Linked DNA regions of Homo sapiens: region 2 is linked to region 1. Evidence: fine-mapped expression QTL. A gene starts in region 1. The other region holds a variant in brackets. All regions are shown on one strand. Distances are between the middles of the regions. Region 1 holds the start of ADM5 (adrenomedullin 5 (putative)). Region 2 overlaps SCAF1 (SR-related CTD associated factor 1).

Evidence for each region. PIP is the estimated chance that this variant, and not a neighbour inherited with it, causes the effect.
Region 2: its variant is the best candidate, but not a certain one, in a credible set for the expression of ADM5 in whole blood (TOPMed, PIP 0.59).

What each region holds. Positions count from the first base shown.
Region 1 is chr19:49,685,123-49,696,743 of GRCh38, forward strand. It overlaps ADM5 (adrenomedullin 5 (putative)), which reads left to right and starts at 4,472. Exons shown (of 2, transcript NM_001101340.2): 1 at 4,472-4,789; 2 at 4,984-5,453. The coding sequence starts at 4,716. The coding sequence ends at 5,371. PRMT1 (protein arginine methyltransferase 1) reads left to right here. Exons shown (of 11, transcript NM_001536.6): 9 at 971-1,121; 10 at 1,483-1,604; 11 at 3,040-3,325. The coding sequence ends at 3,123. CPT1C (carnitine palmitoyltransferase 1C) reads left to right here and starts at 5,994. Exons shown (of 20, transcript NM_001199753.2): 1 at 5,994-6,218; 2 at 6,699-6,767; 3 at 7,117-7,271. The coding sequence starts at 7,131. RefSeq lists enhancers at 2,071-2,812, 2,813-3,553 and a silencer at 4,862-4,931.
Region 2 is chr19:49,649,851-49,661,471 of GRCh38, forward strand. SCAF1 (SR-related CTD associated factor 1) reads left to right here. Exons shown (of 11, transcript NM_021228.3): 7 at 1,018-3,855; 8 at 4,499-4,581; 9 at 4,802-5,020; 10 at 7,911-8,039; 11 at 8,358-8,792. The coding sequence ends at 8,549. It overlaps IRF3 (interferon regulatory factor 3), which reads right to left. Exons shown (of 8, transcript NM_001571.6): 7 at 10,863-10,978; 8 at 9,722-9,983. The coding sequence ends at 9,798. Among named protein-coding and RNA genes, the nearest start is that of IRF3, 10 kb to the right of the region's middle. RefSeq lists enhancers at 5,838-6,613, 8,234-8,937. The variant G/A (reference allele first, on the strand shown) is at 5,666.

The sequences.
Region 1 (11,621 bases):
CAGAATGTTGGCCTGAGGTCTCAGAGCCTGATCTGCCAGCCAGAGGTGGTGCTAGAGGCCCAGGAAAGACACTTCGTCCTTTAAATATCTTTGTGAGCGCTGCTGTGTGAGAACCATGCTTGGCACTTGGCTTCTGGCGGAGGAAACACCCAAAGCTGGCAGCTAAAGCCCACAGCCCATGCACGGAAAGGCAGGACCCCAGGGCGATGAGCGGATGCACATGCACGCGGGCCACTGCAGAAGAGCACGGGGCCAGGCTGGGCTCCGAGATGTGCCTGAGGTCCCAGCTACTCGGGAGGATCACTTGGGCCTGGGAGTTCAAGGCTGCAGTGAGCTGTGATCACATCACTGCACTCCAGCTTTGGTGACAATGTTTTGTTTTGTTTTTTCCTTTTGTTTTTTTTTACTTCTGAGACCCTGTTTAAAAAAAAAAAATACGGCGATGAGTATTTGTTGAGCTGGGATGTGTGAGCCGGGTGAAGCTGGGTGGCTGACCGGGGGATCCTGTCGGGGAGGAGTAAGTTGTTGAGTGGGGGAGGAGAGGAGACTACAGGGGCAGGGACCCCACTCGGGCCACCCTCCTGAGAGCCAGGGGAACTGGCGCAGGGTTTAGGTTGGCATTTGTGTTGCCGTTTGAAGCCATCATGTTGTTGGACTTGTCAAGGGGTTGGGGAGACAGTGGAGTGGGGCGCCTGCATTCTAGGAGGTCTGGACAGAGTTAGGGTGGCACTGCCAGGTTTGGGTGTTGGAGAGGAGGGAGCAAGGAATCTGGGCTCGAACCCACATGGTTTATTGGGAGCCGGATAGGCAGGATGCAGAGTGAAGGAGGAGCCGAGGCTGGGTGCCAGTGAGGGAGGGCTAGCAGGAAGGGGACAGCGAGGTCACAGGCCCTCTGGGAGCTTAAGGGAGGGAGGAGGGGATGAAGCGAGGTGGGGACGCATCCCGGAGCTCGCCCTCTCATGTCCTGCAGGAGGTGGACATCTATACCGTCAAGGTGGAAGACCTGACCTTCACCTCCCCGTTCTGCCTGCAAGTGAAGCGGAATGACTACGTGCACGCCCTGGTGGCCTACTTCAACATCGAGTTCACACGCTGCCACAAGAGGACCGGCTTCTCCACCAGTGAGGCGGGGCCCACAGGGCTGGGGGCCGTTCCCGAGCCAGGGCGGAGGCGCACCCACGTAGTGGAGGGGGTGACAGAAACGGGCAGAAGGAACCATGGGGACACGCGTGTTCCAGTGTGAGCTCTGCCATGTAGCAGTCACGTGGCCTTGGGCAAGTGACCTGAGTGTGCAGTGCCTCAGTTTCCTCATCCACAAAAGGCTGACACGGTCCCTGTCTCCAAAGCTCAATGACAGGGAGGTGACTCGCGGATAGCAGTCCCATCAGCTGTCATGGGGGTGGGCATTCCGACAGAGGGAACGCAAGGGTGGGGTTGGGGGGGGCAGCAGGCCGAGGCCGGCTGACCCGCCCGCGCCCCCAGGCCCCGAGTCCCCGTACACGCACTGGAAGCAGACGGTGTTCTACATGGAGGACTACCTGACCGTGAAGACGGGCGAGGAGATCTTCGGCACCATCGGCATGCGGCCCAACGCCAAGAACAACGTGAGGCTCCGGGCAGCTGGGTGGGAGGGTGGCAGCTAGGGCGGGGAGTGTAGATTGGGGGGGGAGTGGTGGGGGAGGAATGGTGGCAGCGGGGGTAGGGGATGGGGGCAGCCGGGGTGGGGGATGGGGGCAGCTGGCGGGGGCGAGCACCTCTGCCTATTCCCGGGTCCCCAAGCCCCTCAGCCCCATGCCTGTCTACACAGCAGGATTGCTTGAGCATTCACCGGAAGTTATGGGCCTGGGGACCCAGGCTGAAACCCTGCCCTCCTGGTGCTTCCACTCTAGACAAGGGGGTCAGTGACATGGTGATGCCAGTTGGAGGTGACCTCTGTCAGGCTGGGAGCAGGGCAGACAGGTGTTGGTGTAGGTGGGCTCCAGGGCAAGAGGCAGCCCCCAGTAGAGTGCACGGGGTTTTCTAGCCCAGCTGGGAGGCATGAGAGGAGAAAGGCAGCTTTTTGTTTTCTGCTCCCCTTTCTTTTTCCTCCTGAGCACTTGGCAGGAGCTGCCATCACCTGAGATCAGGGGGCTTCCGGGGGAGCTGGGGGGGCTTCTCGGAGACAGGGTCTGGGCAGAGATCCAGTGTGGTGGGTCTGAGCAGGCAGGAGGATGGAAGGCTTGGAGCCTGGAGTCGCCGGGAGTGGTCTGGGTTGGAAAAGTGGGTCCCGGCCGATGGGTGCGAGGGTGGGTGGCACTCAGGGTAGTCATGGAATGTGGACCCTGGGACACCCACGAGCCTGTGACAGCAGCAGTTGTCAACTGGGCAGTTTTACTGCCCCCTCCGCTCCCCGCCCCCCCCCAGGACGTTTGCCACCGTCTGTGGAAACATTTGTGGTTGTCACTCCGGAGAAGGGGTGGTCCTGGCATCTGGTAGGTAGGGGCCAGGGGGCTGGTAAATGTCCTGCAGCCACAGGACCACCCCCTACAAAGACTCATGCAGCCCCCGGGACCACGGCACTAGCTGGGAAACGGATACTGGAGAGGGAGGAGGAGTCCTCGGGCGTTGGTGACTTTGTCTCATCTTCATGTGCTGGAGGGTATGGGGGGAGGAGAGGAAGTGGAGACAGCAGGCTGGACCATTGTGTTTCACTGGAACGTTTGCCTGAGGAGGAAGTGGGCTTGGGAGAGGTTTTCTTTTTTATGAAAGAAGCAATCACTGCATTGCTGATGGGAATCATCCTGATGGAGAAATCCAAGGGCAAGGGACAGCAGCTGGGCTCTACTCCTGAGTGAGTCTAGTGGGCTTGGGGGTGTCCATGTGGTGCTGTCCCTTGGCAGGGTCAGGGCAGCTGCTAGGGTGGGACCAGCAGTTGGGGTCTGCAGCGTGGAGATGGGCAGGAAGCTGGAGCCCGGCTCATCGTCGCATAGCCTGCCTGCACCCGCCCCCCGCCACCACCTCCTGGTGGGTTCCGCCCTCATGCCCCACCTCTCCCTGCAGCGGGACCTGGACTTCACCATCGACCTGGACTTCAAGGGCCAGCTGTGCGAGCTGTCCTGCTCCACCGACTACCGGATGCGCTGAGGCCCGGCTCTCCCGCCCTGCACGAGCCCAGGGGCTGAGCGTTCCTAGGCGGTTTCGGGGCTCCCCCTTCCTCTCCCTCCCTCCCGCAGAAGGGGGTTTTAGGGGCCTGGGCTGGGGGGATGGGGAGGGCACATCGTGACTGTGTTTTTCATAACTTATGTTTTTATATGGTTGCATTTACGCCAATAAATCCTCAGCTGGGGTCTGGCTTTGTTTCCTGGGGGCAAAGGAGGTTTGGGGTTCCTTTCGCAGGTACTGCAGTGCCAGCCTCAGCAGTGGGGGGACCGGCCTTGGCACCTGCTGGTGGCTGCCATTCTGTGGATCTGCGTCTCCCGTCCCCCGTCTCTAGGCCTCTTGCTCCCCTTCCTTGGTTCCTTCTCGGGGTCCCTGTCCTCCACAGCTGTCTCTCAGGGTCTTTGTCCAACTCTTTTCATCCCTCTCCTGGGTCTGCGCCCCTCCCCTCTGCGGTACCCGTGTCCTGCCTAGTAGGGGATGGGGGTGGCTTTCCAGCACAGCCAGCCCTCAAGTTTCCCAGAACAGTCTCCCCACCTCCCCCCAACACTCGACATTGTTCCTCTCTGGCTGTTTTTTCCTGTTCGGGTCCCTTCAAGGCCCAACTGTGCCCAGCCCTCTGCAGCTGGGGACACTGAGTGGGTTGGGGGTGTATGTTTGCAAGGATAGAATTTCTCATGGGGGAGTGGCCCTGCTTCCTCCCCTAGAATGGCTTGGGGCTTAGGGCTGGGGACTTGCCCTCCATGGAGGTCAGTGGGAGTTGCAGCTGTAAGGTGGCAGGGCCTACCCATCTTACAGAGGTGAAGACGAGGTCCCTCTGCCTCTGCTGCAGACATGGCGTCTGCACCCACCCTTCCACCCTCAGGGCCTGGCCACGGGGTCCTGGGTCCCCCACAATACTGTGCACTCGACCTGGTTGACCCAGGACACCCTCCTCGTTGAACAGCCCTGGCTACACCTGCTTCAGTGCAACTGGAGCCCTCACCGGCGAGTGCCTGACACCTCGGCCTTTTCTCTTCCGGAGGGGCGCTCCTCAGTGTGTTTGGGGTCTCCCTCGCTCCACGCCCTCCAGGGGGCCGCATGTGCACTTGCCCTGCATTGCCTGGCCCCCGAGGTTCCAGGGTCCCAACTGTCTACTAACCGGCTTCCCGACAGGGTGAGGGTGAGGTCGCATCTACAACCAGAGCCAGCGCTTCCCCGCCGCCACCCCTTTTCTTGGAATCCCGCTGCTTAGCTACCTGCGGGTGTCATTGGCCCCGCCCCATTTCCCCACGCTTTGAAGGGGGCGAGTCTCCACAGACCTCCTAGGGGGATAGACAGCAGCTGGTGTGACCCCACACACCCAGTGAGGTCTCTGGAGCCGCGGTGCGGGAAGCGGGGACCCGGGTTTGAATCCTGCCCCTCTGGTGTGGTGCGGCCTCTTCCCACAGACTTTTGGCCTCAGTGTTCCCCGCCTGGGAAGTGGGGACTGGCCCTGGTACCTGGCTCCAGAGCTGCACCCAGAGGCGATCAGCCCGGTGCGGGAACGGGGCGGGGTGGCCGCAACTACGGGCCACGGATCCTGACCCGCCCTGCCCACGATGACTATCCACATCCTCATCCTGCTGTTGCTCCTCGCCTTCTCCGCCCAAGGGGACCTGGACACTGCAGCCAGGTGAGAAACCCGGGTGGCAGCAGGGACAGGGCGGGAGGGAGACCGTAAAGGGCGAGCGCCCTCTCCCGGCCGCGGAACGGGCAGGTGATCTGTAAGCCTCCCCGCTGGTCTTGGAGTGCTTGGGTGCCCACCTCCATCACGCTCCATCTCTCAATTCGGTTTGAACCCGGTTTTCTCCCACGCTCCCTCTCCAGGCGAGGCCAGCACCAGGTCCCCCAGCACCGCGGGCACGTCTGCTACCTGGGCGTATGCCGGACCCACCGCCTGGCGGAGATCATATACTGGATTCGCTGTCTCCACCAAGGAGCCCTCGGGGAAGGCCAGCCACGAGCCCCAGGACCCCTACAGCTATGGGCGCCGCCGGTGGCGCGAGGCGGAAGCCCGGCTCGGTTCCCAGGATTCCGGCCTGCAGCGAGGGGGCTAGCGCAGTGCCCAGCTCGCTGGGTGACCTCGGGCACGGCTCGTCCCCTCCTCGGCTTCAGTTTGCCTATCTGTATGTTGGAGCTTCTACTCCACATTTCTTCTCCCCTAACTCCAGCCCCTGAAACCGTCTTCCCCAGTCCCTCCCCGGGCTGCGACTAGGTTGGACCTAGAAGCACACGGGACCAGGCTGGGCGAAGAACACTGACGCCCAGAGCCGAATAAACAAGAGTTCCGTGTTTCAGTCTCTGCTTCTCTGTACCTATTTCGACCTCTCAGTCGAGGCTGGGTCTCTAATATACCTTTCTCTATTAGCCATGCTGCTTCTCCCTCACGGAAGTCCCACTGTCTACCTTGAATCCAACCCGCTGTGGCGCCTTTCTTGCCAACTCAATCCATGCACCTTCCGTGGGTGGTTTTGGCGGGCCGTCCTGACCCCCAAACATCCCTCCTCCCTCCCTGGCGTGAAAGGGCTGAGATTTGCTCCGGCACCCTACGCGCCTGACGTTATAATGCACCTGGGGTGGGCTGCGACCTCCCAGCTGAGCCTTGTTCCTCGAAGAGACAGGAGACTAAGAGACAATGAGCTGAGTGAGGAGCCCAGGAACCCGGGTTCCGAACAGCTGCGTAGAATGCGAGCGGCCAAATGGTGGAGAATCTGGCCGGGTAAAAGGAGACGGAGGACTGGGGATCGAACGGATGTAGGGGATTGGACGCCGTGGCTCGAAGGGGGCGGGGATAGAACGCGGGGATTGGAAGGAGGCGGGGATAAAACCCGGGACCTGAATACCCGGCTAGGGACACGAGAGAGAGGAATCGGGGTTTCTGGGTGACGGTGATCTCGGGGTGGGCAGGACTCCAAAGGCCCGTCGACCCGGTGGTGGACTCCTTGCACTGGGATTGGACATATGCAAGCGGGAGATTTGGGGCCGGCGCTCAAAATCGGGGGGCGGGGGTGGACTCGGGTTTGGACCCCAGGATCCGATCAGCGGACCCTTGATTCAACGTGGTAAGTACTGGACCCCAGGGGCTCGGGCTCCGGCGGGGCCTGGAGTCCTGTGTCTAGGGTTGGGCGTGCAAGCCTCTCCATCACTTGTCCTCGACGCTCGCCTCCGCTCACAGCCTCAGCATCCCAGGCTGCGAGGCATGCGCAGTGGGTGCTTCCTTCCCCATTCCCTCCAGCACGGGCGGGGGGAGGGGACGCTGAGCGGATGAATTTATAGACACCATCCCCCTCGCCTTGGCATGAAAAGCGGCAATGGGGTGGACAGCGTCAATGTCTAACAGGTGTTTGTTTCATATGGGTCTAAAACTAATGCTTTTCTCAAGACCCCGCAACTCAGCCTGGACCAGTTTCCCTCCTCCACCCACCCCCGAATCTTGAGAATCCTGTACTGGGGGGAGGGCACTGCCCCCGCACCATGTTCTTGGGAGAGCAGGTAAAGGGGTTAACGCGAGCTATCCCTCTGGCCTCTCTATGCGTTCCCAGAGGTCCCGAATTGACGTCCTTCCCTCAAAACCTCCGGGTCTACAAACCAGGACCCTCAAGACCCTTCAGGTGCTTAGAGAAGGATGAGCTAGGTTATGTAGTCCTGGGTCGGCGCAAAAAGGCAGCTGAAAGCGTGAGATCCCGGGTCTGAGGGAGGAGGGGCTGGGGCCTGGGCTTCTGGGTCTGAGGGAGGAGGGGCTGGGGGCCTGGACTCCTGGATCTGAGAGAGGAGGGGCTGGGGCCTGGGCTTCTGGGTCTGAGGGAGGAGGGGCTGGGGGCCTGGACTCCTGGATCTGAGAGAGGAGGGACTGGGGCCTGGACTCCTGGGTATGAAGGAGGAGGAGGGGCTGGGGGCCTGGACTCCTGAGTCTGAGGGCGGAGGGGCTGGGGTCCTGAAGTATGACTCTGCCCGACTCAGGGCTCCAGCGTGACATGGCTGAAGCGCACCAGGCCGTGGGCTTCCGACCCTCGCTGACCTCGGACGGGGCTGAAGTGGAACTCAGTGCCCCTGTGCTGCAGGAGATCTACCTCTCTGGCCTGCGCTCCTGGAAAAGGCATCTCTCACGTTTCTGGGTGAGGAGCGGTGCTGGTCGGTTTCCTTCCGGGGATCCAGGTTTCTGCTTCCGGGATGTCTGAGGCTCACTTCCGGCATTTCAGCTGGTTCATTTCTGGGAGACTATCACCCCTTTTTCTTAGAATTTTGATGTCTGCTCCCAGGACCCCTTTAGCAATTTCTCCGTGGCTCACTTCTGGGATCCACAGCCCCACCTGCTGAGAACCTCTGCTCACTTCTTTCACCCAAGAGGGGAACTGGGCCCCCCAAAAACTACCCACTTCCAGTTTCTAGAACTCCATATCCTTCCCTTATGGTGAAATTATCATTTCTTCCTTTCATCTCCAGCTTCTTTTGTAGTTGTTGTTTCTGAGACACAGTCTCACTCTGTCGCCCAGGCTGGAGTGCAGTGGCGGGATCTCAGCTCACTGCAACCTCCGCCTCCTGGGTTCAAGCAATTCCCTGCCTCAGCCTCCCAGGTAGCCGGGATTATTGGCGCACGCCACCATGCCTGGCTTATTTATTTATTTATTTATGAGACAGAGTCTCACTCTGTTGCCCAGACTGGAATGCAGTGGGGTGATCTTGGCTCACTGCAACCACCTCCCAGGTTCAAGCGATTCTCCTGCCTCAGCCTCCCGAGTAGCTGGGATTACAGGCATGGATTATACGCCCAGCTAATTTTTGTATTTTTAGTAGAGACGGGGTTTCAACATGTTGGCCAGGCTAATCTCGATCTCCTGACCTCAAGTGATCTGCCTCCCAAAGCGCTTGGGTTACAGGAATGAGCCACCGCGCCCGGCCCAAACTCCTGCTCTGTCCCTGTTCTGGAATGCGCATGCCCAATGTGTAACCAGCACCCATGTCTGTCCCAGGGTTTCTGGTTCTAGAACTCTTGCACTGTCTCCATACAGGGACTCCCTGCTTGTCACATCCTCTGTGTGTGAACTGGGGTCTGGAACACCTGTGGGGTCATGATTGAGTTTGAATCCTGACTCCACCGCTTAGTAGCTGTGTCATCTTGGGCAAGCACCTCTCTTGGAGTCGCAGTTTCCCCTCGTGGAAAACATGGGTGTTGACAGCACCTCCCTCACAGGATAGCCTTGAAGACTAAATTAATTCTTCTATGTCCTGGCCCATGGCGAGGTCTGAGTGTTAGCTTCTGATATTGTTCTTCATTCATTCACCATATATTTATGGGGCATCCGGTAAGGGCCTGGCCCTCTTTAGCATGGAGAACACAGCAGATATCAACAGACAGAATCACGCCTGGGCACTGCGGGCTCACGGCTTTAATCCCAGCACTTTGGGAGGCTGAGGCAGGAGGATCACTTGAGCCCAGGACTTGGACACCAGCCTGGACAACATAGGGAGACCCCATCTCTATTAAAAAAATAAAGACAGGTCGGGCACGGTGGCTCATGCCTGTAATCCCAACACTTTGGGAGGCTGAGACGGACGGATCATGAGGTCAGGAGATCGAGACCCTTCTGGCTAACACGGTGAAACCCCGTTTCTACTAAAAATACACACACACACAAATTAGCCTGGTGTGGTAGTGGGTGCCTGTAGTTCCAATTACTCAGGAGGCTGAGGCAGGAGAATGGCGTGAATCCGGGAGGCGGAGCTTGCAGTGAGCCAAGATGGCGCCACTGCACTCCAGCCTGGGCGACAGAGCGAGACTCCGTCTCAAAAAAAAATAAAATAAAATAAAAAATAAATAAATAAATAAATAAATAAATAAATAAATAATAAAGACAGAATCCTGCTTTTATAGAGTTCTCATTCGAGTTGGGGGAGAAGGCAATAAAACAGATGAGCAAAACAGAAGGCAATAAAACAGATGAGCAAAATATAGGGTATGGTGACATTCTATAGTGTCATCTGATATTGATGGTGACACATGCTATGGTGAATGATAAATCGGGTAGAGAAGAGTGATGTGGGGGTGTTGCAGTTAAATAAGGGGGTGGCAGGCCAGGTGCGGTGGCTCACGCCTGTAATCCCAGCACTTTGGGAAGCCAAGGCAGACAGATCACGAAGTCAGGAGTTCAAGACCAGCCTGGCCAATATAGTGAAACCCCATCTCTACTAAAAATACAAAAATTAGCCGGGTGTGGTGGCAGGCACCTGTAATCACAGCTACCTGGGAGGCTGAGGCAGAAGAATCACTTGAATCCAGGAGGCAGAGATTGCAGTGAGCCAAGATTGCGCCACTGCACTCCAGCCTGGGTGACAGAGCAAGACTCCGTTTCAAAAAAAAAAAAAAAAAAGGGGGTGGGAGCCGGCGGCCAGGAGGATCTCCTGAAGCTGGGATGCTTCAGCAGGCTAAACTGAACCTCTGTGGTCTTGTTGGTTGTATAATCTGTTCCAGTTGGCAAACAGCCACTGCCTTGAACTCCGAATCCCTCTCCCGCCCTTACCCTGGGACTCCTTGGGCCTCAGGCCAGTCTACCAACTAAAGTGTTAACATGTGACCATCCTTGGCCAGGCATGGTGGCTCACGCCTCTAATCCCAGCACTTTGGGAGGCCGAGGCGGGCAGATCACGAGGTCAGGAGATCAAGACCATCCTAGCTAACACAGTGAAACTCCGTCTCTACTAAACATACAAAAAAATTAGCTGGGCGTGGTGGCAGTCACCTGTAGTCCCAGCTACTTGGGAGGCTGAGGCAGGAGAATGGCGTGAACCCAGGAGGCGGAGCTTGCAGTGAGCCGAGATCGTGCCACTGCACTCCAGCCTGGGCAACAAAGCGAGACTCCGTCTCAAAAAAAAACAAACATGTGGCCATCCTTTTCGTGTGTTTAAATACATACATACATAGATACATACATATTTATAGACCTATAAATATATACATGCACACACATATATATGATAACATTACATGGAGAAAAATGCACAATTTTTTTTTTTTTTTTTTTTTTGAGACGGAGTTTTGTTCTTGTTGCCCAGGCTGGATTGCAATGGCATGATCTTGGCTCACTCCAATTTCCGCCTCATGGGTTCAAGCTATTCTCCTTCCTCAGCTTCCCAAGTAGCTGAGATTACAGGTGCCTGCCACCAGGCCCGGCTAATTTTTTGTATTTTTAGTATAGACAGGGTTTCACCATGTTGGCCAGGATGATCTCGAACTCCTGATCTCAGGTGATCCACCCGCCTTGGCCTCTCAGAGTGCTGGGACTACAGGCATGATCCACTGCACCTGGCCTTTTTTTTTTTTTTTTTTTTTGACATGGAGTCAGTCTGTTGCCAGGCTGGAGTGCAGTGGCGTGATCTCGACTTACTGCAACCTCTGCCTCCTGGGTTCAAGTGATTCTCCTGCCTCAGCCTCCAAGTAGCTAGGACTACAGGCGTGTGCCACCACGCCAAGCTAATTTTGTATTTTTAGTAGAGACGGGGTTTCACCATGTTGGCCAGGATGGTCTCGATCTCTTGACCTCGTGATCCGCCCACCTTGGCCTCCCAAAGCACTGGGATTACACGCATAAGCCATTGCCCCTGGCCTTTTTTTTGAGACAGCGTCTCACTCTGTTGCTGTTGCCCAGGCTGGAGTGCAATAGCAGGATCTTGGCTCACTGCAACCTCCATCTCCTGGGTTTAAGCAATTTTTCTGCCTTAGCCTCCTGAGTAGCTGGGATTATAGGTTCCCACCACCACGCCTGGCTAATTTTTGTATTTTTAGTAGAGATGGGGTTTTGCCATGTTGGCCAGGCTGGTCTGGAATGCCTGACCTCAGGTGATCCACCCGCCTAGGCCTCCCAAAGTGCTGGGATTACAGGCATGAGCTACTGCGCCCGGCCAAACCCCAGTGTTTTCATTTGTAAAATGAGATCATCTTAGTACTTATTTCACATGGTTTGGGGAGGATTTAAATTGTTAATCCTTGTAAATGGCACCTGGAATGTAGTAAGTGCTCATTAAACGTTAGTTATCTCTCTGAGGCTTCCAAAGGAGTTTAGTTAGTAACGCAGTGCTGTTGGTCGTTCCTCATTCATTCCATGCCCTGGTACTTCTAGAAGGCCTTACTGAGCTCCAGACCCTGCTCTGAATAGGGATCATTTTTCTTTTTCTTTTCTTTTCTTTTTTTTTTTTTTTTTTGAGACAGGGTCTTACTTACTTTGTTACCCAGGCTGGAGTGCAGTGTCACCATCACAGCTCACTTCATCCCTGAACTCCTGGGCTCAAGCGATCCTCCTGCTTCAGCCTTCCAAGTAGCTGGGACTAAGGTGTGTGCCACTGCGCCTAATTTTTTTTTCTTTCTTTTTTTTTTTTTGGAGACCTTGTCTTGCTCTGTCACCCAGGCTGGAGTGCAGTAGCGTGATCTTGGATCACTGCAACCTCAGCCTCCCGGGCTCCAGCGATTCTCG
Region 2 (11,621 bases), 35 kb before region 1:
TAAGACACATTGATCCACTTGCCTGTGGTCATGTGGCTGGTGAGGGCCAGCCCCTGGATCAAGGGGTGGCTCTGGTGCTGCCCTCTTGACCCCTCTCCTTCCCTGGCACTGTCCTCACACCACTCTGCTGGCATCCTTGCCTGTGGTGTGGCCTCTGTCAGCCATCTCCATCGTGTGACTGTGGCATCATGACTGTAGTACTTAGCACAGTGCAGCGGGCTCTTTGGGGGCGAATGAGGTGACATACGAAGCACCATGCCTGGTTTGGAGGAAGAGGCAAACCTTTGTCATTGCCACTGTCACTGGTCAGTGGTGTCTTTGAGTCCTGAGCAGATGTAATTCCTTGGGTGGGGACTCAGCACAGAGTGAAGAGCTTGGGGTGAAGACCAGCCTTCCTGGGCTCCCCAGCTCTGCCATTTCCTGGCTCTGCACTGGAATCTCACCCTCTACCAAACGGGAGAAACTCCCACGAGAGGCAGCTGGCGCAGCAGGCCAGAGCTTGTTTTTGTCTTGGAGGGGGACTTAGGTTTGAATCCCAGCTCTCCCCCTGCAGCCTGTTTTCCTGTTTCTTCTCCCCCCAGGATGGAGTGTGGTGTTGTGGTCATAGCTCACTGCAGCCTCCACCTCCTCCTGGGATGGGTCGCCGGCACTGGTCAAGATAGTTCCTAGTTTCAAGGCCAGGGTACATTGCCCAGGGTCAGGCCAGTGCTGTCTCAGGATATGGGAGTGCAGGTTCGGGGCCGCACTGACTGAGTTTACACCCTGACTGCTGCCTTCTCTCTGTGTGCCCTTGGGGAGGATACTGCAGCCCTCTGCCTCAGTTTCCTCCTGTGACCTTTGGGTTAAGAACCATGGTGTGCAGTTGTTGGGAGCATCCTACGGCTGGCTCCTGTGAAGCACTTGGGGCTTCCTGGGCAGGACCTGGTGGCCCAGGGAGTGTCCACGGCTGGGCCAGCAAGCAGGCACCAGGAGGGAGGCAAAGGCCCTGACCGCCTCTCTCTCCCTGTTCCTTTGCAGTTTCTCCACAGTCGAACTCCTCTAGGCCCACCTGTGCCCGTCACCTCACCTTGGGCACGGGAGACGGGGGCCCTGCCCCACCCCCTGCCCCCTCCTCTGCATCCTCCTCCCCTTCCCCTTCTCCCTCATCTTCCTCCCCTTCCCCTCCCCCACCCCCACCGCCCCCTGCACCCCCAGCCCCACCTGCCCCCCGATTCGATATCTATGACCCCTTCCACCCCACCGACGAGGCCTACTCTCCACCGCCTGCTCCGGAGCAAAAGTACGACCCTTTTGAGCCCACCGGCTCCAACCCCAGCTCATCAGCGGGGACCCCCTCACCTGAGGAGGAAGAGGAGGAGGAAGAGGAAGAAGAAGAGGAAGAGGAAGACGAGGAGGAGGAGGAAGGCCTGTCCCAGAGCATCAGCCGCATCTCGGAGACCCTGGCGGGCATCTACGATGACAACAGCCTGAGCCAGGACTTCCCAGGTGACGAGAGCCCCCGCCCGGACGCGCAGCCCACACAGCCGACTCCCGCCCCTGGAACGCCGCCCCAGGTGGACTCCACCCGGGCTGATGGAGCCATGCGCCGGCGGGTCTTCGTGGTGGGGACCGAGGCAGAGGCTTGTCGGGAAGGCAAGGTCTCGGTGGAGGTGGTGACCGCTGGTGGAGCCGCCCTCCCGCCGCCCCTGCTGCCGCCCGGCGACTCGGAGATCGAGGAAGGGGAGATCGTCCAGCCGGAGGAGGAGCCCAGGCTGGCGCTGTCCCTCTTCCGCCCCGGCGGCCGGGCCGCCCGGCCTACACCGGCCGCCTCGGCCACCCCCACGGCCCAGCCCCTTCCTCAGCCTCCCGCTCCGCGGGCCCCCGAGGGGGACGACTTCTTGTCCCTGCATGCGGAGTCGGACGGCGAGGGCGCCCTGCAGGTGGACCTAGGGGAGCCGGCTCCCGCGCCGCCCGCCGCCGACTCGCGCTGGGGCGGCCTGGACCTGCGCCGCAAGATCCTGACCCAACGGCGGGAGCGCTACCGCCAGCGCTCGCCCTCCCCGGCGCCCGCGCCCGCCCCGGCCGCCGCTGCTGGTCCGCCCACGCGCAAGAAGTCCAGGCGGGAACGCAAGCGCAGCGGCGAGGCCAAGGAGGCCGCCTCGTCCTCGTCGGGCACCCAGCCAGCGCCGCCCGCCCCGGCCTCGCCCTGGGACTCCAAGAAGCACCGCTCGCGGGACCGCAAGCCCGGCTCCCACGCCTCGTCGTCCGCCCGCCGCCGCTCCCGCTCCCGCTCCCGCTCCCGCTCCACCCGCCGCCGCTCGCGCAGCACCGACCGCCGCCGCGGGGGCAGCCGCAGGTCGCGGTCCCGGGAGAAGCGGCGACGGCGGCGGCGCTCCGCCTCCCCGCCCCCGGCCACTTCCTCATCGTCGTCCTCGAGGCGCGAGCGGCACCGCGGGAAACACCGGGACGGTGGCGGCAGCAAGAAGAAGAAGAAGCGGTCGCGGTCCCGGGGTGAGAAGCGGTCTGGGGATGGCAGCGAGAAGGCCCCGGCGCCCGCCCCGCCGCCCTCTGGCTCCACCTCGTGTGGTGACCGCGACAGCCGCCGCCGGGGGGCCGTGCCACCCTCCATCCAGGACCTCACGGACCACGACCTCTTCGCCATCAAGCGGACCATCACGGTGGGCCGGCTTGACAAGTCCGACCCCCGAGGACCCTCTCCTGCTCCGGCCTCCTCACCTAAGCGGGAGGTCCTGTACGACTCCGAGGGACTGAGCGGCGAGGAGCGGGGCGGCAAGAGCAGCCAGAAGGATCGGCGCCGCTCGGGGGCCGCCTCCTCCTCCTCCTCTTCCCGGGAGAAGGGGTCTCGTCGGAAGGCGCTGGACGGGGGTGACCGGGATCGGGACAGGGACAGAGATAGGGACAGGGACAGGTCATCCAAGAAGGCCCGGCCCCCCAAGGAGTCGGCGCCTTCCTCAGGGCCCCCGCCAAAGCCACCAGTCAGCAGCGGCTCAGGCTCTTCATCCTCGTCGTCCTCCTGTTCTTCCCGGAAGGTGAAGCTGCAGTCCAAGGTGGCGGTGCTGATCCGCGAGGGTGTCAGCAGCACCACCCCGGCCAAGGATGCCGCGTCAGCCGGCCTGGGCTCCATTGGCGTCAAATTCAGCCGTGACCGCGAGAGTCGCTCCCCCTTCCTCAAACCTGACGAGCGGGCCCCCACTGAGATGGCCAAAGCAGCTCCGGGCAGCACCAAGCCCAAAAAGACCAAGGTCAAGGCCAAGGCAGGGGCCAAGAAAACCAAGGGGACCAAGGGAAAGACCAAGCCATCCAAGACCAGGAAAAAGGTCCGCAGTGGAGGTGGCAGCGGGGGCAGTGGTGGCCAGGTGTCGCTGAAGAAGTCCAAGGCGGATAGCTGCAGCCAGGCGGCAGGCACCAAGGGGGCGGAGGAGACTTCCTGGTCCGGGGAGGAGCGGGCAGCCAAGGTTCCTAGCACCCCGCCCCCCAAGGCAGCCCCACCACCCCCTGCCCTCACTCCGGACTCGCAGACCGTGGACAGCAGCTGCAAGACACCTGAGGTCTCCTTCCTGCCCGAGGAGGCCACTGAGGAGGCTGGGGTCCGAGGTGGGGCGGAGGAGGAGGAGGAGGAAGAAGAAGAGGAGGAGGAAGAGGAAGAGGAGGAGGAGCAGCAGCCTGCTACCACCACGGCCACCAGCACTGCTGCAGCCGCCCCAAGCACTGCCCCCAGCGCGGGGTCCACAGCCGGTGACTCGGGGGCGGAGGACGGGCCAGCTTCCCGTGTCTCCCAGCTGCCCACGTTGCCCCCGCCCATGCCCTGGAATCTGCCAGCTGGTGTGGACTGCACCACCAGCGGCGTCCTGGCCTGTGAGTGTCCCCTGGGGGAGGGTGGTGCTGGGGCAGGTGAGACAGGATGGGGACTGGAGGGTACAGACTTAGAGGCAGTGGGGTGCCCTGGCAGGGAGAGGTTTATAGGGACATAGACTGGGAGGGTGGGGGTGAGTAAAGGCCAGCCAGGCTCTAGGTGCCTGGGTGTACTGGGAGAGAGGGGCCGGTGAGAGCAGGTGGTGGCCAGCACAGACTGGAGTGGTGGGCTGGGTTCTGGGATTCCCCTAGACGGGGAGTAGGAGAGAGGGACCAGAAAGAATGGCTTGAGCAGGGCATCGTATTCCTTACGGATGGCGGTTGCCTCTACCAGACTGCAGAGGTGGGGAGAGAGGTTGGGACTGGCCACAGCGGGTCAGGAGGCAGAATCTCACTCCTGCCACTGTCTCATCACTGCATGACCCTGGCCAACCCCGCACCCACACACCTGGAGTCCCAAGAACATTCGTGGTATGGGCTGTTCTCTCATTGGCCAAGGCCCCCTTTTCCCAGTTCTGAGCGTGAGGCTTTGTGGCTGTTCTGGGGCCAAGGGCAGGAGATGACAGCAGGTGTCCAGGTGAGGTTCACCAGCTCCTGTCCTGTCACCTCTCCCATCTTCATGTTGTCACCTCTCTGCCTCCTGCAGTGACTGCACTTCTCTTCAAGATGGAAGAAGCCAACCTGGCGAGCCGAGCGAAGGCCCAGGAGCTGATCCAGGCCACCAACCAGGTGGGCTCCCCTGGGGGAGAGTCCCTGCCGCCCCTTCTTTTGTCCATTGCCTCGGGTTAGGAGAGGAACCGCGGGCCTGGCAGCTCTGGGGCAAGGTATCGGCCTGAAGAGGAGCCTGTTGCCTCAGCTGTGGGGAAGTCAGCGTGGGAACAGTGGGGTGCACGTCCCCTCTTCCCCTCCACCTCCCTTTACTCATCACCCCTCTGTCCTCGTCCCACAGATCCTCAGCCACAGAAAGCCACCCTCAAGTCTGGGGATGACCCCAGCTCCTGTGCCCACCTCTTTGGGTCTGCCCCCTGGCCCCTCCAGCTACCTGCTTCCTGGCAGCCTCCCTCTGGGGGGCTGCGGTTCGACCCCCCCCACCCCCACCGGGCTGGCTGCCACGTCTGACAAGAGAGAGGGCAGCAGCAGCTCTGAGGGCCGTGGGGACACAGATAAGGTGAGCTGGCCTGGGGAGAGGTGGGGCGGTGCTGACAGTTCTGTAGAGAATATGGACAGGAACTGAGACGCGGGGGCCCAAGGAGAAAGGGAGACTGAGGCAGGGAGACAGGGCCGTAGAGACCAAAGTCATGGAACCATAAGGAACTCCACTTTGCTGGAATGGGTGAGCAGGAAATGCGTTAGGCGTGTCCAAAGGAAAATCGCGTCTGTGCGTGTGTGGGGCTGTGTGCGTACACACCACATATACACACCCTGGAAGAGATGCCCCGCGCTGCAGCCCACCCCTTGATTATCTGTTGCTCGCGCTGTCTCCGTCTCTGTGAGTGGGGGAGGGTGGTTTCCGAATGAAAACTCAAGAACCTGTTTGTAGATGAAGCAGGGGAGAATGGGTGCCAGGCAGACAGTAATGTAGGTTCTTACTCAGCTGCTCTGGCCGGCTCCTACTCCTGGGCTCTGGAGCTGTTTCTCTCTTGGTCAGGTCTAGATGTGGGTTTTTGTTTTTGTTTTTCTTTGAGATGGAGTCTTGCTCTGTCACCTGGTCTGGAGTGCAATGGTGCCATCTCGGCTCACTGCAGCCTCCGCCTCCAGGGTTCAAGTGATTCTCCTACCTCAGCCTCCCGAGTAGCTGGGATGACAGGCACCC[G/A]CCACCACACCCAGCTAATTTTTGTATTTTTAGTAGAGACGGCATTTCACCACGTTGGCCAGGCTGGTCTTGACTCCTGACCTCAGGTGATCTGCCAGCCTCGGCCTCCCAAAGTGCAGGGATTACAGGTGTGAGCCACCGTGCCCGGCCTTGGTTGGTTGGTTTTTGAGACAGGGTCTCGCTTTGTCACCCAAGCTGGCATGCAGTGGCACAGTCACAGCTCACTGTAGCCTCAGCCTTGATCTCTCGGGCTCAAGGGATCCTCCTACGTCAGCATCCTGTGTAGCTAGGACTACAGGCACGCGCCACCATGCCCAGCTCATTTCTTAATTTTTTGTAGAGTTGGGGTCTCACTATGTTGCCCAGGCTGGTCTCAAATTCCTGAGCTCAAGTGATTCTCCCACCTCAGCCTCCCAAAGTGCTGGGATTATAGGCATGAGCCACTGCACCCAGCCTAGATGTGTTTTCTTACAGTCTAGTAGCCCATAGCCAGACGGTGACGTTGGCCACCCTTACACAGCTGTGTACCGTGCCAGATAAAGCTGTATAAACCCCATTAAACATCCTGTGTGAGCCGCAGAGGCGGGGCTGCAGTTTAGTCGGTCACTTGTCCGTAGCTTGTGCCTTGCGCTGCAGGACTCGGACGGTGAGGACCCCCTGGTCTACAGTGGCCCTTGCTCTGCCCTGGTCTGTGCTCTGCCCTTTGCCCCGCTTTGCCCATCCGAGATGGGTGTTGGGGAGCAGCGTCTCTCTAGAGACCCACATCCTGTGGGGCCAGGCAAGCCTGAGAAGTCCCTCCAGGGCAGCCTGTGTCTCTTCTGGCCACAGAGTTCCCTAACAGCTCAGTAGCTCGTCAGACAGTGTCACTGATGTTGCTCCTGGAGTCGGCTAGCCATTGTGCCCTGCCCTTCCCAGGACTCAGTTTACCTGCCCCTACTTTGATAGTCACCTGGCTTGGGAGGGCAGCTTCTCCAAGGGTGGTGCCAAGGGACTGTCCCTTGTGCCTGCAGAAGGCCTGTTCTTCTCTGGTCCCACGTGGCTCTCTGGCTAGAGGTTTCCTGTCTGCTTTTGCAAGGATTCTGCCTGAGGCCAGGGCTGCAGCTGCTGCCCCGAGCCTGCGGCTGCGGGATCTCCTAGCTTGCTGGCCACAGGCGGGAAGAGCCTTGCCTCGGAGGCTCTCTGCCCTGTCCCTGTTGCGTCCTCCCCTTTTCATCCCATGGCCATCCCCCTTGGAACAGGCACAGCTCCCCTGGATTGAGTCTTTGCTCTGTACCCAGCCTGTGCCATGTCCTCCATGTGTGTCGCTGTAGTACTGCCCATAGGTGCTGTCCCCGTTTTACAAATGAGCCACAAAGGTGGCCAGGCACGGTGGCTCATGCCTGTAATTCCAACACTTCGCAAGGCCGAGGCGGGTGAATCGCTTGAGCCCAGGAGTTCAAGATCAGCTTGGGCAACATAGTGAGACCTAGTCGCCACAAAAAGTACAAGAATTAGCCAGGCGTGGGGGTGGCACATCTAGTCCCAGCTATTCAGGAGGCTGAGGTGGGAAGATCGCTTTAGCCCAGGAGACCAGGGGTACAGTGAGCAGTGATTGTGCCACTGCACTCCAGCCTGCATGACAATGAGAGACCCTGTCTCAAAAACAAAGAAACAAAAAAGGAGCCACAAAAAGGTTTGGCTGAGCATCCCAGGGGTCAGAGACAGGGAGTGGCAGACCAGGCTTCTGATACAAATGGGCTCAAGGTCAGTCCCCACCCCCACTCCCCAGTGCCCCTCACCCCTAGCCACCCCCTCCATCCCCTGGGTGACCAGAGCAGTACTGTAAAAACCTAAACTGAGTCCTCCCCGCTCCCGCGGTGAAAAGCCCTGTGCAGTTTTCTACAGCCCCGCCTCTAGAGTCTGATTCAAAACCAGCTGCAATTTCTTGGCCAATGCCTGTCTTCTCATCAGACTGAACTTTGTGAGGGCAGGCGACACACATGTCCTGGTCCCGGCCAGGCCTGGAGCAGCCCAGGGTTCGGCCTGGAGGAGATGTTCAGTGACATGCAGAGGCCCAGGCCTGGCCTTTGGTCCCGGGCACCTGCAGCAGAGGGCGCATGGGACAGACCCTCAGCAGGACTTCCAGCCTGAGAGCAGCTGGACGGCCAGAGAGGTTAGGCTGGCAGCAGAGGCGAGTGGAGGTGGAGGTTCCGCAGGTACTCACTGGCCCTTGCTGTGTCTTCCCCCGCTGTCGCCACCCCACCAGTATCTGAAGAAGCTGCACACGCAGGAGCGGGCGGTGGAGGAGGTGAAGCTGGCCATCAAGCCATACTATCAGAAGAAGGACATCACCAAGGAGGAGTACAAGGACATCCTGAGGAAGGCCGTCCACAAGGTGGGCACCCGGAGAGAGGGGCAGACACAGGCCGGGGAGAGAACGAGCTGGAGGGACAGATGTGTGCAGACAGATGGACGCGGATGGGAGACGGGGAGGAGGTCAGTCTGGGAGGTGAGGAGGGTGACAGGATTTTCTCAAGGCCACCTGGGCCTGTTCCGCTGGCCCTGGGGCACCCATCGTCTAGGGGGACAGAGGGACTTTGGCCTGGTTATTGGGGAAGCTCCTCCTACCGCAGTTCCAAGCTGCGCCCAACAGTCCTGGGTGGATGGGGCCCCGGGAGCCTGGTGGTGACTCCAACTGTCCCCGGCCCCCCAGATCTGCCACAGCAAAAGTGGGGAAATCAACCCAGTGAAGGTGAGCAACCTGGTGCGGGCCTACGTCCAGCGCTACCGCTACTTCCGCAAGCACGGTCGCAAGCCAGGGGACCCCCCAGGGCCCCCACGGCCGCCCAAGGAGCCAGGGCCCCCAGACAAGGGTGGCCCGGGCCTGCCCCTGCCCCCTCTCTGAGAGCCCTGGCCAGCTCTTCGCCCCTCACCTCTTTGAAACTCTGGACGTATTTATGGCTCCACCTCCCCACCTCCCTCCCCCGTCAGTGGGATGACTGGGGGAGGGTTGCTGCAGGGAAGAGGAGAGCCCCCTGCCCTGCCCTGCCCCGTGTCCACCTCCCTTGCCCCCAAGCCTGTCCCCAGTGCCCCTCCCTTCTGTTTGTGCCCCTCTCCCCAATTTCATTAAAGATTTCATGAAACATTACCCCTGAGCCCCATGGTTCTAACCCTTTGTTTTCGGAGACAAATTTGCCAGAGGGTTGGGGAGGGACCCCCAGGAGGCTGAGGATGGGAGACAGAGACCAGACTGTGACTTGGGGCAGCTGCCTCCCCTGGGCCTCAGTTTTCTTATCTGTGTAGTGGGTGTTGTGATGATTGAACAAGACACAGGTGGAGCACTTAGCACAGTCTCTGGCTGGGAGCGAGCTGCTCACAGGGAGGCAGGGGCCGGACCCCACCTGATCAGCATCTTCCCAGCTCGGCTCCTGGGTGCCATGTGCCTGCCTTGGAATTGCTCCCAGAGCAGGATCTGTGTTCCCCATTGAGTTGGCTTCTCTTTTCAGCAGCCCCGTGAAGCTGGGGTGATCTCATCAACTGTCCTGAGAGGGAAACTGAGGCACAGAGCAGCAAGGGCCGAAGGGTGAGTCAGGGCTGCGCTGGCTTCTGCCAGTTTCATCACCCAGAACTGCGGCCCAACCAGGAGAGGTGACAGTGCCCAGGGTCACCAGGCAGGCAGGCTTTGCAGGCTCCAGGGTGGCCGCAGAGCCCCTTTACCAAGACCCCTCCAGCCCCACGTGGAGGGGAGCCTGAGGCCTGGAAGGAGAAGGACCACTTGCCCAAACTGTTCATAGGCAAGGCAGGGGGCCTGGGTTCTGGCTAGTCTTTGTGTTTCCTACTCTGTGACCTTTGCGCCTCTCCCAGCCTGTGTCTTGGTCTACAACACGGGGACAGCCATCACCCACCAGGTCCCTGGGCAGAAGTGAGGAGGTGTCAGCTGCCCCCTGCAGTGCTTGGTCTTCATGCATTGAGCACCTGAGTTGTATATAGCTGCACAGATGGGTAAACTGAGACCCTGAGCGGGAATAACAACCATATTGGGTCAGAGGGCACCCAACACCAGACACGCACAAGTGATCATAGCAGGAACCAGTTTATTGGTTGAGGTGGTGGGGAACAGGGGGGTTGGAGGCACACCATGAGGAGCGAGGGCTCAGCTCTCCCCAGGGCCCTGGAAATCCATGCCCTCCACCAAGTCCTGCAGGTAGGCCTTGTACTGGTCGGAGGTGAGGGAGAGTGGGTGGCTGTTGGAAATGTGCAGGTCCACAGTATTCTCCAGGGAGGAGGCACCCCCTACCCGGGCCATTTCTACCAAGGCCCTGAGGCACGTGGGCACAACCTGCAGGGGAAGTGGGGACAGGAGTCAGGGAAAACACCCAGCCACTGTCCACCAAGGTAGGAGTCAGGGCTTGGAGGACTACAACTCCCTGCAGCCCCTGCTGTAACCTAGGATGAACCATAGGCCTAGGGCTGCTGGGAGTTGTAGTTTTACACACACACACACACACACACACACACACACACACACACACACCCCCTGCTGTAACTGAACCATAGGCCTAGGGCTGCTGGGAGTTGTAGTTTTACACACACACACAAACACACACACACACACACGTCAGGGCTGAGCAGTCTGTGATCTTGACTCCTGGGAGCCACAGCCATGGCCTCACAATGGCAGCTAAAACTTGAGTCCACCAGCTTCTACATGGTTTAGAGCAGGGGTCCCCAACCCCCCTACGGCTTGTTAGGGACCAGGTTGCACAGCAGGATGTGAGCAGCGGGTGGGGGAATATTACTGCCTGAGCTCTGCCTTCTGTGAGATCAGCGGCAGCATTAGATTCTCAGAGGAGCACAAACTCTATCGAACTGCGCACGTGAGGGATCGGCTGCTCCTTAAGAGAATCTAATGCCTGATGATCTGCAGTGGAGCAGTTTCATCCCGAAACCACACCTCCCTGTCCGTGGAAATATTATCTTCCATGAGACTGGTCCCTGGTGCCAAATAGTTTGGGGGCCACTGGTTTAGAGAGTTCAAAACAGGTTCTGCAGGTGAGGCCATGGGAAGGAGCTCCCGGGGATGAAAAACTGGTTATTGCAGAGATCTTGGAAGTTGCAGTTTTTTAGAGGGCCCTCTGGGAGTTGGAGTTCCTGGGAGCAACCTCTTCCCTCTGTAAGGCCACCCCTTTCAGCCCCAGGGACTCAGGTCTGCAGGCACCTTGACCATCACGAGCCTCTTGGTCCACGGCTGGTCCTGGGGCCATGACTCCCCCACACAGAACCAGAGGGCATAGCGTGGTGAGCGTCCGCTTCCTTCCGTGAAGGTAATCAGATCTGGGGGCCCAGGAGCCTAGTCAGGGATGAGAAGAGGACCCTCTACCCACCCTTCCCCGTAAACTTGAATGATAACCCCCACCACCTCCCCTGACCTAAGGCCCTCTGCTGCCTCGACCAGGGGACTGCTTGTTTGGGGAAAGTCCCCTCCTTCCCTCCCTCCCTCCCTCCCATCAGGGTGGGGTTGTTGGAAGGCCACACCCCCAAGCCCCCAAGCCTCAGCATTCATAACAGGCCCAGAGTAGGGGGCCCATGCTCCCAAGGATGCTCAGTGAATCTGGAGAAGCTGGTTGGCATTCAGTCCTGTCTGAGGCTGCATTGTCCAATTGCAGCCATTAGTCATGTAAGGTTATTTCAGTTTAAATTGTAACCAATTAAAACGAATCACGTCCTGGTTGCACTCGCCTCACCTGAGTGCTTGGCCCCTGTGGCTAGTGGCTGCTGCACCGGACAGTGCAGGTGACTGTCATTTCCATCATGGCAGAAAGTGCCACTGCACAGCGAAACCCTAAGGGATGTAGCTTTCCTGCTATTGGTCTGTTCACCATCATTAGTTACGATGATGATGACAGTGGCAGCTAATTCCCTGAGCAGGCTCTGTGTACTGGGCCTGTGTCTCACCCCAGCGCTGGCAGGCAGGTAG